Linked DNA regions of Homo sapiens: region 2 is linked to region 1. A link means that fine-mapping ties the variant in region 1 to the expression of a gene that starts in the linked region. Tissue or cell type: unexposed skin. Region 1 holds a variant in brackets; the other region holds the start of a gene. All regions are shown on one strand. Distances are from middle to middle.

The links.
Region 2: BMPR1B starts here. The variant in region 1 is fine-mapped to the expression of BMPR1B in unexposed skin (GTEx, PIP 0.98).

What each region holds. Positions count from the first base shown.
Region 1 is chr4:94,784,317-94,789,693 of GRCh38, reverse strand. The region is part of intron 1 of BMPR1B (bone morphogenetic protein receptor type 1B); the gene reads right to left. Among named protein-coding and RNA genes, the nearest start is that of BMPR1B, 29 kb to the right of the region's middle. The variant G/A (reference allele first, on the strand shown) is at 2,949.
Region 2 is chr4:94,754,770-94,760,146 of GRCh38, reverse strand. It overlaps BMPR1B (bone morphogenetic protein receptor type 1B), which reads right to left and starts at 2,192. Exons shown (of 13, transcript NM_001203.3): 1 at 2,079-2,192. BMPR1B-DT (BMPR1B divergent transcript) reads left to right here and starts at 2,614. Exons shown (of 3, transcript NR_121610.1): 1 at 2,614-2,753; 2 at 5,242-5,317.

The DNA.
Region 1 (5,377 bases):
CTCAGATAAATGTGGTTATATTATACATCAGTTTAATGGGCATTTCTTGCTTTATGGTTTTTTGCTAATGACTTATTACTTATTTATTTTATGTTTATTTTAGACTATGGAAATGATGTTAGACAAAAAGTAAATTCAAGTGATTTTTTTATTCAAGTTCAAATGGGTCATAAAGCAGTGGAGACAACTCACAACATCAACAACGCCTTTAGCCCAGCAACTGCTAATGAACGTACAGTGCAGTGGTGGTTCAAGACACTTTTCAAAGGAGATGAGAACCTTGAAGATGAGGAGCATAGTGGCCAAACCACTGGAAGTTGACAATGACCAACTGAGAGCAATCATTGAAGCTGATCCTCTTAAAACTATACTAGAAGTTGACAAAGCACTCAACGTTGACCATTCCACAGTCGTTCAGCGTTTAAAGCAAATTGTAAAGGTGAAAAAACTCGGTAAGTGGGTGCCTCATGAGCTGAAGTGTCATCTTCTCTTGTTCTATGCAAGAACACTGAACCATTTCTCAATCGGATTGTGATGTGCAACGAAAATTGGACTTTAATATGCATGTGTTAACCTCCTCTTACTTCCAGGTTGTGCTTCCTGCCACTCTGCAAAGCTTCTAAGACACAGCCAATCCATCCAGGGGTACCTGGGCACTGGAGCTACTGAAACTCCTGTCCCAGTGCAAGTGATAGCAAATGGGCAAAGGCCAGGCCTTCATCACCTCAGGGGAGGCTGGGATAGATGTGATAGAAGGTGAGGTGATGGCAGAAGCAAGCAGACAATCACAGTTATGCCAGGGAATATCCTGGGGCCATGCCGAAGAGGAAGAAGAGCAAGTTGCTCAGGCTTGGGCAGGCGTGATGCAGAAGATTTGAGAGGCAGATAAACTGGATCTGGTGCAATCCTCTCCTTCTGTCGCTCAGATTAATTTGCACTCTCTTATGAAAGGCAGATCTAAAAGATGCCCTCATCTCTTCTCCAAGAGAAGAGGTACAAGTCCAGTTCTTCATGGTTGTGAAGAATTGCACTTGCACTTGCCTAGAAAGAGATTTAGTAAACCAAGGTATGATTTGTGCCTTTTGCAGCTGGTCCTGTAAATCTGTGTTTGTCATCTCCCTCCTGCACCTCCTACGTCAGATTCCCTTCACCCACAGCCAGTGCTCTGGGTGGTCTGGTTTTTGCCTTATGGGGTGACCCAGACTTTTATTCCCAAAAGGCTTGGGCCTATAGTTTCCTTGCTTTTGTCAGGCTATGGCTGTTCAAAATGTCCATTCACAGTTGCCACTAGGCAGCAAAAGACCAGAAGACAGCCCAGGGAATCCCCTGGGCCAGAGATACTCCTCCCTGTCCCCAGTATGTAGCAATAACCTTAACTCCTCCTGGTGTTCACAGTTCATTGGTCTACCAATGCTTCTTTATGCCTGCTGGTGCACTGTCATAAGCTCAAAGTGAATATATTGTGGTCGCAGCTTCCAGTCAAGAGAATTCTTACTGTGTCCTGTGGCTAAAGTGTTCCTCACCCCATCCTCCATGAATCAGGACCTCTTACCTGGGAGAGCTTAAGACTGCAGGGACAAGAAGCACAAAATCTACAAGTGGGTCACTGTAACTGATGGCAGAAGGTAAATCCAACTTCCACCCTTTGATTTTCAGATTCTCTTGTTCTATTACCAACTCAGCCCCATATATACCACATTGAACCCCACGGAGTTGTCCACAAGTTGCTGCTTTTACTGAATATTTATTCCATTCCACAGGCCACTCAAACCTCCTATCCAAATGCTTCTGGGTATTAGAAACATACTAACTCCAGTGAATCTTGTGATCATGAGTTCCAGTATAAAATAGGTCCCTTGGTCAAAGGAAATACTGTGTGGGTTACCACATTGATATTGCAAGAAAGAAAAAATATCTTTTCTTTCTACCCATCTAAGTTCTCGCCTAGAGCCCCTGTAACAAAAGATTATCAAAAGAAAAGCATACAGATTTATTTAATATAAGTTTTACATAACATGGGAGCCATTCTTAAAGCAAATGAAGAACCAAAGACGTGGTTAAACCTTCATTTTTGTGGTCAAACCTGAGCGTTTTTGTGTTTCATTTGATGAAGAGCTATGGAAATATATGAAAGGACAAAGAGGCTGAGCTAAGTGTAATAAACTGGCGAAACTTAGCAAGGCCTGTTCACTTCGACTCCTCTCACTGTCCTTCCAATCTTCAGAGATAAGAATACTTCTTTCCTCTGGATACAGGGAGGGTACCTGTCACATGAGGGCCTTATAACCTGCTTCAGGGGAGAACCGGAGATGCCATTTCTTAAATTCCTTTAGCTTAAAATATTTAATAAGCCAAGGTGCCATGTTTCAGTAGCTTGTCCTGAACCCCATCAACATATTAGGCCCTGAGTCAATGGACTGAACATTCACATGGTGATACTGGCAGGATCTCTGCCTGCAGGGGAATAAAAAACCTCTACGTGGAGTATATGTCAATTCTGGTAAGGATGCTTTAGTACGTCTTTTAAGGTCCAAGACCTCCAAGATGACCCATCTGCCATCAGACTAGGCGGCAACTGGTCTCCTACATATCAAGGGCTTGGTATTGATCCCAGGTTGGGCATTCAGCCATAGGGTCAATAATTCATTCCTTGTCGCCCTGGTAAAACAAAAAATGTCCTGGGGAATAAAAGTGGTTACGTTTACGGCCAGATGCAGTGGCTCACACCTGTAATCCCAGCACTTAGGCACACTGAGGCAGGAGGATCACTTGAGGCCAGGAGTTCAAAACCAGCCTAGGCAACACAGCATAACCCTACCTCTACAAAAAAAATTAAAAATTAGCTAAGTGGGCTGGGCACGATGGCTCACGCCTGTAATCCCAGCACTTTGGGAGGCAAAGGCGGGTGGATCACGAGGTCAGGAGATCAAGACTATCCTGGCTAACAC[G/A]GTGAAGCCCCATCTCTACTAAAAAAAAAAATACAAAAAATTAACCAGGCATGGTGGTGGGTGCCTGTAGTCCCAGCTACTTTGGAGGCTGAGGCAGGAGAATGGTGTGAATCCGGGAGGCGGAGCTTGCAGTGAGCTGAGATCGCACCACTGCATTCCAGCCTGGGCAACAGAGCGAGACTCCGTCTCAAAAAAATAAATAAATAAATAAATAAAAATTAGCTAAGTGTGGTGGCACATGCCCATAATCCTAGCTATTTGGGAGGTGGAAAGGTCACTTGAGCCCAAGGGTTTGAAGCTGCAGTAAGCCAAGGTCATGCCACCACACTCTAGCTTGGGTGACAGAATGAGACTCTCTTCAAAAAAAAAAAAAAAGGTGGTGAATTCTCAAGTCTTACAAAGTATATTTCTAATATTTCTGCCCACTATGAATTTTGACCCCTTTCTCAATAACATGCCAAAGAAGCTCTGACATTTCCATATGCCCTTGCTAGAACATGTAATTCCAAATCACACAGGGGTAAGTACCCGCATGATAATACATCTTCATCCAGCAGAACCTTATATTCCATGCCCTCTCATCTTCCCATGTCCTCAAGATCTATTCTACAAATGTTTCCATAATACCCGAATTATTATGGCATATTATTTTAACATATACTATATTCTTCACAGAGCAGGGATCATAATTACCCACTTAGCCTATGCTAAGATGCTACTTAAGCAATTCAGCCTAGAAGTAGTGAGTGATGATGTGGCCAGATCTTGAGGAGAATAAGCATAATCATACATAGAACTAACTTCAGGAAAGGTCACTATATAGAATCCAGAGAAAGTAGGGCTATTTTCTCCTGGCTAAAATGACTTGGAAAAAATTAAGGATTCAATATTGTTCAGCACATATACCCAGAGGTCTCATTTCCAGGTGTCAGCATCCTACTATTTCTCTATCAAAGCCCTGGCTTTGACAGGTGATCTGTCAAAACTGTACCTTCAGTCTTATACTGCAGCCTTGCCACTCTTATATCTTGGGGTTAATTTTCAACATAATATTCTCTGTGAATGTGGAATGAGATCTCCCTTAAAGAAATTATAGCAGTTCTCTGGCTTTCACAGTGTGCCTTAAGCTGGCTGTGAGCTACCTGGGGCCCATCTTTTTCTTTTCTAAAGTCTTTAATGCTGCCAAAACACCAAAATCCTTACAGTTATCCATGCCCCACCCCCATGCCCATCAAATGCAACAGCTACATGTCTTTCTTTTCACCCATATCTTATGCAAAATTATCATCATTGAAAGCTGTGGTCATTGTGATGCCACTGCATGCCAAGGTCATTGTCAGCTCCCTGACGACTAGCAGTCCTTACAGCCTTCAAAGAGGGAAGCAATCTAATTTAACCCCATCCTAAGTACATATGTGCTAGGAGCACCACTGATTATAATTAGTTTTGCCTGAATTCTTTAGAAATCAGAGTTTGAGGCCAAGTTTACATGTCAATAATTCTTTGGTGAGCACAGGGAAGGAAGAGTAAGGGAAAAGGGGAAATGAGGCAGGACAGGAAGGAAAACAACTATAAGGTGGTACATTAACAAACTGGCTATGGCCTTGCAAGAAATCGCGGTAAGCTACAAGTCACAGGCATATCTCCACAGAGGCTAAATGGAGACCATTTGTCTCAGCTCCTTTCTATCTCCCACCACTCATGGGTCAGTGTTTGCTCCATAGCATAACTTTCTTGTATTAATATTTTGAGGCCTGACCCCTCCAAGCAGCTGCTGGTGAAGCTTGAGGCTTTGTAGGTCCAGATGCGGCACATCATGCCTTGAATTTGTTATGACTCTTACCCTAAAGGTCACAGGAAGGCTGTACCAAAGAGGAGGCTAAGATGACCTGTATGGTATCAAAGATGAGGTTACAATGAAAATGGCCAGGGCTTTACAACCACAAGAATGACATGAGCTGCTACTGTGGCCACTCTAAAAAGGAAGTAGGACAAGCAACTGAGGTTTGAGAAGGGAGCCAAATGAATCTGGGCAGAGAAATCAACTGGGCCCAGTATAAATTTTATGCCAATGTATGTTAACATTTAGGCTGGGTGCAGTGGCTCACACCTGTAATCCCAGCACTTTGAGAGGCCAAGGCAGGAAGATCACTTGAGGCCAGGAGTATAAGACTAGTCTGTGCCACATAGCAAGACCTCATCTCTACCAAACAAAAAAAAGAAAAAATTTTAAAAAGTTTACACAAAAGAGAAAATGTAAATATAATTTTGAAAAACTATTCAAATAGAAACAGGAGACCTGAAAACTCATAACAAATAAGAAATCTAAGTAGTTTAAAAAGTAATCTTGTAAGTTCAGATAATTTTACAAAGTTCTATCAAACTTTCAAGGAACAAAACCTAATATTATACAAGTTCATCCAAAAAAC
Region 2 (5,377 bases), 30 kb after region 1:
TCACCAAAAACTAACATTTTGATTTAAAAACACAAATCAGTGCCATTAAAATTCATCAGCGGCCCCTAGCACATGAGTAATGAGATCATATCAACTTATATCATGTAACTAAAAGGAAAAGGTGGTTTTCTAAATGGTAATTCAGATTGGACAAATAACACACTGTATCAAGTTTTGTAGCTCTAGGCCATATTTTGCTAAACACAAAGGTACATTATGCATGACTAAAGAAAACAGTGAAAATCAGAGCAATTAATTTCCCAGCTATGTTTCCCATAAAAAGACATCACTACTATGATCTGCTTATAACACAAACTTTTTTGCATTGCACAATGATCTAAGTGTGTAATAACTTACATATTTCACTAAGATGTAACATCCTTCAAAACATCCTTATAATGAAAGTTTTCCAAAAACATTATTGATCACCGGCATGTCTCATGTTTTAAAATTACTGACGAATCCTTTACTATTTTCTTTACAGCTAGAAATAATTCTTCTTGATCACTAGAGTGTAAAGGGGTATAAAGTACAAAGACTGAATATTTTCTTAAATACTAACATCCCAGTTGACACAGGACATTTCCCATAACTTGCCCAAAACAATAATTAGGAGAGTTGTCACTGGAATCCTAAAAATATATGTAAGAAAACAGAGATTCGTTGGCATCAATTTAGCACAGCAAGAGATTTCCATTAAGTGCTTTTTCAAATTATTTGCAAACACTTTTTAGCTGAACCCTCTCATTTCCAGTGGAGCCTTTTATGTTTCTTTGCAGAACTCAAGAACCTTTTCTCAGGTGGCTCTGCTTTGCTGCAGGTAAGTTTGGTATTAACACATTTTCTTTATCTGTTGGAGGTAGTGAAACGGCTCTCTTCCTCCGTTGTCTTTCACTGGCACCTTTGTGGCCGCTCGTAGTCACTGACCTCACCTTGCTGGAAAGGTGGCTAAGAAAAGAGCAGTTTCTAATAACTCAAGGGAACTGCAGCGTTTCCATTCAGAACAAACAGCAGGACCCAGCTGGAGGGGTGCAGCTCTAAAGAAGTAAGACCCGCACCACAGCGGACAACTTCCAGAGGCTCTTCTCCAACACCGCCAAACACAGGCGGAAACACGGAGCCTGGACAGAAAGAGGGACGAGCAGAGAGATGGGCGCAGAGAGCAAGAGACAGGGGAGCCAGGAAGACCGGGAGCGAAAGCCTCTTGAGAGAGAGAGAGAGACCAAAAGATTGTGCGAAAGTGACAGAGGGAAGAGGATGAAGGGACAGAGGAGGGACACACTGGGAGAGCCAGAGCAGGCGGTGGGGAGAGGGAGACAGACGCACGGAAGGAAAGAGAGACCGGGGGGAGAGGCAAAGGATAGCAATAAGGAGAGGAAGGGAGAAAGGAAGAAAAGGGAGAGAATGAAAGACCCAGAACTTGAGAGAGAGGCATAGAGAGAGAGAAGCAGGAGAGAGAGGAGAAGAGACAGGCAACTGAAGCAGAGACGGAGCCCAGTCCAAGGCGCCGGGACCAGCCCGCTGCGCACTTTCCCCCACGGCAAGGCTGGGTCTCGGGAGGCGTCCGGGGCAGGTGGGTGCCTGCGGGTCCCGCCTGGGCTGGCCCTGGGCCCCCGCCCCGCCGGGCTCCCTCCCATTTCCCGGATTCCGCGACTGCCCTCAGCTCGCCCTCCCGCCCCATCCCTCCGCTCGCAGGTCCGACTCCCTGCCTTGGGGCGTCCCTACAGCCCGAAGCACGTGTCCCGCCCGCCGCCGCCGCTGCCCCGACTCCTCGCCTGCGCAGGCACGAGGCCTCGGGGTCCCGGCAGAGCCGCCCGCGCACAAAGCCGAGGCGGCCACCGCCTGACCCCCTCCCCGCCGCCGCCACCGCCCCACGGCCGCGCAGCCCGCCCTCGCTCTCGCCCTCTCCCTCGCGCGCTCCGTCCTGCCTAGGGCGACCGCCGCCCAGCTCCGCACCCAGCCGCTACCCGTCCCGCGCCGCCCCTCGCTCTGCCCGGCTCTCGCCGGCTCGGCCGCCTCCCGCGCGCTCGGGAACTCGGCCACCCGCAGGGGACGGGGCCCCGCCGCGCGCGCCTTACCCGCGGCTGCGCTCCCGGCTCCCGCGTCCTCAGCGCCGCGGTCTCCGCACTGCCCGGCGTCCCGCGAGGCCCCGCCGACTCCGCGCCCCGCGCCCGGCTGCGCCGTCAACTTCTGGCCGCCGCGGCCGCTCCGCCGCCGCCGCCGCCGCCACCGCGGGACTTTTTTTTTTTTTTTTTTTTTTTTTCCCTCTCGCTCCTCGGCTGCCTCTGGAATTTTTTTTTTTCACTTGCCCTCTCCAGCTCCCACTAGTGATTGGAGACTGAGAGCCAAGTACTTAGCGGAGGGATTACACTTCTCAACGCACTTGGAGCGGCCCCAGCGCCGCCGCCTGTGTGCGGAGTGCGGAGCCGACTTGGGGAGCGGCGGGGTGCGGGCCGGAGGCAGCCCGGGTACAGGGGTGCGCTTCCCAAGCCCCGTCCGCTGCTCAGAGCATCCCCAAGATTTCCCTCATGGGTCCTGTCCTGGTTGTTTAAGAAGGTTTCCAGAAAACCTCCTGGTTTGAAGAACAAAGATTCGTGGAATTATTGTACCTTGAGAGCTGGAAAGGGCTCGCAGAGATGATATAATGTCGTGGATTTCAACTTTTCGGGGCCATAGACACTTTTCAGAAATTGATAAAACGTTGACACACCTTGTAAAAAATGAACACATTAAAATTAAGCCTGCAGTTTGAGGTGGGGGTTTTAAGAATCTTGAAATATATACAGTTGAGCGTCCAAGGGAAATGAAATATTTCCCTTCTACATATTTTTTGAAACCGTTAAACGAAAACAACCACCAAAAAATTAAAAATAAAAAAATAAAACCCAAAAGAGAAAACCCATTCCATTTGTATTTGATGACAGTTTACAGTTAGTCGTGTTTCTTTTGGAAAAGTATGTAACGTCTTATACTTTGTGGTCTCCTTGCTAAGTCTTTAAGTGTTGAAACACTTTCTAAGTGGGTAAATATAAAGTAAGCTAGTTCACAGTCAGAAATTTGGGGAGAATAGTTAACCTCTTTAAAATCAGCCATTTTGCCAACTCTATTTCCCAGGGAGATATCTCGTGACTTCCAAATACTCTTTTCCTTTCAATACCTTTCAGCTTCCCACTCTCCAGCATTACTTATTTTCTCCTTCTGTAAAATTTTTTTCCTCCAAAATATTGACAAACAGTCTCTGGTCACCACCAAGTGTGTGATCTAAGTCATTTTTTTTTTTAACAGTTTTTCACCCTGAAGTAACTTTCTTCCAATTTTCTTCATATCTATTTCTATATTCAATTCTTAGCCTACTATTTTCTTTCAACTACTCCCTTTTCTTAAATTGTTTCTATTAAATCTTTTTTAAACATTAAATGTAATCTTTTTGCACTTATCAATAAAAAATTCATTTGTGTATCAATTTATTTTATGCAGCTTGCACTTAAAGCAGGCGGTGCCCCCAGTGTTTATTGAGTGTATGAAGATGTGGTCATGTTTTTTCTATAAAAGCAATGTTAGAGTCTCCACAAAGGTCTTTTTGCCCCATGATATATCTGCATTGTGATTTCTAATGCCAAACTGGAAGAAGAAAGGTATCTGAAAGAAAATTTCCAAAACAAGTGAAATTAGTCATTGACATCATCTGACCTTCCTTATTCAACCACTGTTCCAGTCCCCAGTACCAGTACTCATCCTCTTGCCCCAAGAATTCCAAGATAAAATCCATTCATTTTACTCTCATCCCAATTCTTCTCTGATACCCTCACTCCCACCCCTTCCCTTTTCCACCTCCTTTCTTTCAAAACAATAAAGCATATGACTACCTAAATTACCTTCTACCTGGTCCTCAATCCAATTTTTCATCATCTCCATCCTCATATTAACTAAGTGTTTTGTGGGGAGAAGGGGGCTTGAAGACACGGAAATTATAACTTCTACACCATTAAAATAAAAGACAAAGCAAGGAATTATGAGCTATTATGTAATTAACTAAAAATAATAAATTATCGAAAATGAAATGTGAGTTTAGAAATATGAGTTTTAAATATTGAAAATAAGATACCAAATTATAATTCATTACAGAGCTTATGATTGTATACATAGAAAAGCTTAGAGAATTTACTGGAAATCCATAGAACTAAAAATGTAATGTGTTGATCATTGTCAATATCTCATCAACATTAAGCAAGTTTAAAGAGGAAAGAAACCTGATTGAATCTATCCTTTCTACTGTGTGAATTACTGATAATTTGTATTTGACAGCTGTATAATCTCCCTTAGAATTGGAGCACTCATAAACTGCAGTGAAATAAAGCAGACATTATGCAGAATGTTTTGGAGCTAGTGGTATTGTCACCTGTATCTTTTCAGAAGTTGCACTAAGGATTATCTTTCCTTGGCTTAACTCCTCCATTCAGCAAATATCCTTCAGAGAATCTGCTGGGTATAAGATACTGATTCAGGGAATACAGGCATCTCTGGATAGAGAAGACACAGATTCCACTTCAATCAACTTGCAGACAAGGAGACAGATTTTTTTAAATACCTTGTTTAAATATATTTTTTAAAATTCCAAATCAGAGAACAAAGGAAATTCCTGTAGGTCTTTGGGATGAAAAAAAAAAAGCACTCCAGGTGGGAGAAAATGGGGTACAGGGGAAACTGTGTTTGAGGTGGGCCTTAGATGGTAACATTTCTGTAAGCAGGAATGGGGAGCCTTGGAAAGAAGCTATTCAAAAATCAACATTTTTGAGTGCCTATGACAAACCAAGTCCTGGTATTTGAGAGGCAAACTCTGTCCATTCCTTCTTGAAACTCATAATACAGAAGAAACAAGATACTTAAAAAATATATAGAACTTTCTATGAGAAGTGCATTAATGCATGAACACACAATTTTTGGAGCATAGAAAAATGAACTATTCTGCCTAGAAATCTCAGGAAAACCTTCCTAGAGTAGTCACATTTCATAAGGGTCCTGAAGGATCTTTAGAGATCAAAGCGGGGCTAGAAAGAGAATAAACATCCTAAGCAAGGAGAACCCTATGAAAAAGCATGGCGTGTTTAGAGAACAGCTGGTATCTCAGTGCTGCTATCCAAGTGATGAGGAGAAGGTGCAGCAGATGACTCTCTTAGGCTAAGCAGGGTTCAGAAATAACCTTCTCAAACATACTAATGAAATTGATTTTTTCCTTATTAGGTAATGGAGAAGCACTGGAGATTTGTAAGCCACGGAGTCAAATGGTGGACTGGGATTTTCAGGAGATCATTTAGAGGTACCTGGAGAGGGAGAAATGAAAGCACAAAACTAATTAAGGGTCTGTCATTGAAAGAAG